Regions from separate parts of the Homo sapiens genome. Here region 1 is linked to region 2. The links come from fine-mapping of genetic effects on gene expression. A gene starts in region 2. The other region holds a variant in brackets. All regions are shown on one strand. Distances are between the middles of the regions.

Region 1 (2,500 bases), 19 kb after region 2:
ATTTTGGTCCCAAACAGAAAAGAGTGGGTGATTCTGTGGGCAGAGGTGGCAATTCCTGAATGTGGTATGGTGACTCACGCCCGGAGGTGCTCAGAATTTCCTCTGTTTTGTGGCTGCTGGGGCAGGTGCGACACTGCCGCTTTCTCTAAAGATGCCCCCAAGCTGCTCTGGGGGTAGAAGGAAGGCTGCAGGGAACAGCAGGACCCGGAGAACCCAGACCCCAAGGACCAGGTGGTCCTTAAGCCATCCTGCAGGAGGCCGGCTGCTCTAGCAGGTTGAGGAGTGCCACGCGGCTCTGTGGGTACCGCCTCACTGCATGTACCTGGGGCTGAAGGAGCAGTGGGCATTACTCACAGCCTATTACTTCACCTTTGTAAAAAACAAAAATAACTTCCCTGCTCACATGGCACCTTTGTCTTTGACCTTTAGCAGCAGTTTAGACAGGAGGAAAAAAGGCAGGTTCTGGAATGAGAGCGCCTGCTTCCTATCCTAGCCCCTTCCTCGTTGGGCTACATCAGGCAACCCATTTAATCTCTGTAAGCCCATTTAACCACAGTTCACCAGGCAGAAAATGGGGATAATCATATGACCTACTTTATTTTGAGAATTAACCAAAGTAATACTATGTCTGAACATAATACCTGAAAGATAGCATTTAGGCAATGGATATTCACTGTGGTGGTTCTAGCTAGTGTTCAAATGTTTTCTGGAACAAAGCTTGAAGCAAATAAGAACGAAAGGAAACATAACTATCAGTATCGGAGTTGGTGCATGGGCCGGCTTTAACCAGTCATGTTTCCTAGTCTATAGCTTTGCTCATTTTCTTACCAAAGGAAATCAGGGCCTGTTGGAGACTGTCCTATTTTCCACGCTCTTTAGAATAAAGAAACCAATGGCTTTCACAAACTTCCTTATTTAAAATTAATTATCATTTTAAAAAATAGAGGTGGGGTCTCACTATGTTGCCCAGGCTGGTCTCAAACTCCTGGGCTCCAGGGATCCTCCCCTCTTGGCCCCCCAAAGTGCTGGGATTACAGGAATGAGCCACTGCACCTGGCTGCAGCTTCCTTTTTATTCTTTTGAAACATTGCTCTTTCTTCTTCTTTTGGGTAAAAGGACTCAATTGCTGCTAGTCCAATTGCACCAGCTTGTTCTTGCACTGCATACAGCGTGGGAGGAAAAAGCCTGGGAAACGGGGGGACATGGGCCAGCGAGCTCATCCGGCCACA[C/A]CTTCCACCATGGGGCAGGCCCCTCTACTGGCACAGGATGTCAATACTCCTGATCCGTATCTTGCCTTCCCTCCACCCGTTCCTCTTCCTCCCAGCACAGTGACCTTCCGGTCAACCCCACCCATGCCACCCACACTTTGTTGCCCTGGAGTTTCCTGCCACCTGAACCCCTCCTTAAGCAGGATGCCTGGATCCGGGTCGAGGGCTGCAGGCGGAGCTGCTGGTCAAAAACCCCCCGGGGAACTGGTTGGGTGTGGGAGTGGGAGAATGGGCTGTCAGGACAAAAGCACTGGGACTCCAGCCCTGTGGTGTGCACGTGGCTCGGGCTGGGTCAGGAAAAAAATGTGGAGGTAGGGAAACAAGACCCAGGAACTCTTTGGCTGCCATCCAGGGTCATGTGGTGCTGGTGATAAGTGATCAGTGACCCATTGAACCGAGGACGTCTACCGGGGACCAATGACACCTGTAGACACTGCAGGGTTGAAGCTGGGGGAGAAGCACTCACATGCTGTCTGTCTGAGCAAAAGTATTCGTTTTTGTCCGAGAATCTGAGACTCATTTGCTTGGCACACACACACAAAACTTCATGTATGTTGAAATATGGCTCATTATGTAGTTGTCCTGGCAAACCCCTCATCTCTCTAATTGGTCAGCTCACTACTCATGGAACACGGTCCATGTACACGACTCCAGCAGCATCACTAGAAAACACCATTCTCCAGCCCCTCTCCTGATATTCAGAACCACCATTCAGAGCCAGGAGGTCCCAGGGCCACCTTCTCTGAGAATTTTTTTTCTAGTTCTCCAGGTAGCATGTTACTCTCCCTATTCTGATCATTTATGGCATTATTTGCAATGTTTGATCAATATTTGATCTTTCCCAGATTGGTTTTCCCTTTTTCTAATTTTTTTTTAAGAGGCAGAGTCTCACTATGTTGCCCAGGCTGGTTTTGAACTCCTGGGCTCATGGGATCCTCCTGCCTTGGCCTCCCAAAGTGCAGGTATTACAGGCATGAGCTATCACACTCAGCCTATTTTCTCATTTCAGTCGCAAGTTCTGTGTGGGTAAAAGCAATGCGTATTTATTCTCTGACTTGATAGCCTTGTTACTCAAAATGGGGTTCATGCACCCACAACATAGGCCTCCTGTGGAACCTGTTTGCACCAGAATCTTAGGCGGTAACCCCTGACCTCCCGAGTCAGAATTTGCTCCGTGACAAGATCCCTGGATGATTTCTAAATGCATTAAAGGTTGAGAAGTACTGCTTGAG
Region 2 (2,500 bases):
TCAAATTGTATGCCGCAGATCTATGCATTTCTTTATAAGTAATTTTAGCTCAACAAAATGAGCGAGAAGCATATTTAGCTACTCTTTTGTAATTATTCATTAGCACAAATAACCAGGATTGACCTCAGATGTTTTTGGAATCTGAGATGTCAATCACAAGCCAAGAACATTTCTAAACACATCAATTTGAAAAGAAGGAAACAAATTGTCTTGGAAGCTATTTTGTGCCCTTAGAAACTCTTGAATTCCATGAGAGTGCGTTTTTCTAGATGAGGTCATGGGCATTTTCAGAGTCATCATAAATTAGCCCGAGTGTCTGAAGAGGTCATGCGGGGACAAGGGGAAGTTCCAGAACTTCTTATTCTCACAGACTTTCCTTTCATAAAGAATCTTTCCTGGAATTTAGGATCTTGACACCTCCAGGTCTGTAGCTCAGTAACCACTAAAGAGCTTGGCTATAATCCTTTTCCCTGAAAGGCCTTGTCAGGAAGTGCCAAACATCACCTGAAGGCAGCAGGAGGTAGAAGAGTGTGTGGAAAGGTACGCTGGAGGGTTGCTCTTTTTCAATCTAATAGGAATAAATTTGGGATTTTTTTTTTAGCCCTTCTCAGTGTAGTGTTATAAAAGCAGCAACAGAACAACATCCAAAAAAAGAATAAAAAATAATTTGTCTAAAAGTCTTGCACAGTAATAACAGGAGGATTCCACTTATATGACTCCAAAATGTTGAAATCATCTTTCCCTATATTATCATTCTTTTATTTTTTAAGACAGCATACAACTGTCCTCATTCTCTAGTTTTACTCACTAACAATGCCAAAAATTACTTCTCAAAATTCAGCTAACAAGGGCTTTTCTCTGCCTTTACACTTCCTCCTGTCTTTCCAGACCCACTTCCTGCTTCTCCCAATGGGTCTTCTCAACATAAATCATTCTCTCCCGGAATATTTTCCAATTCCTAGCTCTACGCACTCCCCCAGCTCACACCAAGGGACCTGGGAGCTTGGGAGGCAGACAGAATTTTCCTTAGAAGAGGGGAAGGGGAATATTTTTCTCCCTGTAATTTTAAAGTATTGGCACGATTCTGGATGTAGACATCACCTTCTTTTCTGAGATTATTTGAAGTGTCTGGTGCCTATGGACTGTGGGAAAATTTGAGATGATCAATTCGGGAGTTGGAGGTGGGGGTGTAGGGTGGTAAACACTCAAGGCTTAGAAATTGGGGCTCCCCACCCTGCACTAGGGTCTCACACAAAGGGGTTGGCACAGGGCTGAGAAGCAGTGGGGCTCCTGTCCACCCTGCCCAGCACCTACTCCCACCAGGCAACTGAGTGGTATTTAGTCTGCAAGACTAGCCCAGAAACTTGAATGGGACCCTGAGAGAGCCAGGGGTTCCTTGGGCCCCCGCTAGGGGACTTTCTGTTTGCCCTGGGTCTCCCTGTGTGGGCAGGGATGGAGAGTGAGGGCCTGCCTTCATGGCAGTAGGCTCTGAGTGGGTGACTGGCGCCAGGCCAAGTTCTAGGTGGGCTTCCCAAAGCCACATTCAGGCAGGACGGAGCTGCTCTTGCACACGGTTTCGTGGGCTGGATTTTCTCTGTTGCACACATGCTTAGTATCTGTCTCTCCCTTTGTTCCTGAGTGGTGGGCCGCACATGAGGCTCTGAGCAGGCTATATCTCTATTCTGGCAATAAAAGTACTCTGGACACTGTTAAGGTGAGAAAAGAAAAGAAATCGGGGCTCCCAGGAGGAGAATCCTGAACCACGGGCTCTGCGGTGATGTGGCCTTCCTCTTTAGTTTTTGTGCCTTTTATGTGGGCAGAGGGAAAAAGAGACAGCCAGCAGTGATCATTAATCCTGAAAATGCCGAGGGCTTTGGCCTGGGACCCACACCAAGACAGAGTCAAACCGAGTTCTTCTAGTGTTGAGCGTGTTTCACATCTTCCGTTGGAGTTTGCTGTGGATGCTCATTAGACAGACATGGGCAGAATCCCACTTGTTCCTCGTCCTTTTCCACCTCACCTCCATCATTGTGGCTGAAATACACGATCATGGGTGTATCTTTCCTTGTGGATTTGTTGCCTCTAGGAGTTCTGTATGCAGCTGAAGGGTAACATCCCTTGGGAGCTTTTGCCTTGTCTGGCTGACGCCTTGGCAATCGCAAGTGACAGTGACGGAGAGCCACCTCCTCTGGAATGCATCATGGAACAGGTCTGGGAGAACAGAGGGTGCAGGTGAAGGGCCCTCGACAATGCTTCTCTTTGCATTGTGGGGTTTCCCCTTCAATGGATTGCTAAAGATTCAACTTCTCTGTCTCTTTGTGTGCCCGCTAGAAAGGGAAAAGCCAGGCATTTGTAGTCCTCCTGCCACAGATGACCAGAATGACCTCACCCAGGACAAACGGCGACAGATTTAGGAATTCAAGCCAGCTTTTCTGACTCCCAGGCACCTGCTCTCTCCTTTCGAGTGTTCGACTCCACTCTCAGTCACTCGTCACTCTTC

Which allele goes with the higher level. Alleles are on the strand shown, and positions count from the first base shown. SD is a standard deviation of normalised expression in the study named.
In carriers of allele A in region 1, the expression in spleen of the gene that starts at base 1,557 in region 2 tends to be higher than with C alone (large effect, 1.0 SD a copy in GTEx).

What was found.
Region 1: its variant is fine-mapped to the expression of IL2RA-AS1 in spleen (GTEx, PIP above 0.99).

The regions. Positions count from the first base shown.
Region 1 is chr10:6,052,736-6,055,235 of GRCh38, forward strand. All of the region lies in intron 1 of IL2RA (interleukin 2 receptor subunit alpha), which reads right to left. Among named protein-coding and RNA genes, the nearest start is that of IL2RA, 8.4 kb to the right of the region's middle. RefSeq lists a cis regulatory region at 1-291. The variant C/A (reference allele first, on the strand shown) is at 1,230.
Region 2 is chr10:6,033,854-6,036,353 of GRCh38, forward strand. It overlaps IL2RA-AS1 (IL2RA antisense RNA 1), which reads left to right and starts at 1,557. Exons shown (of 2, transcript XR_001747349.2): 1 at 1,557-2,209; 2 at 2,332-2,500. All of the region lies in intron 1 of IL2RA (interleukin 2 receptor subunit alpha), which reads right to left.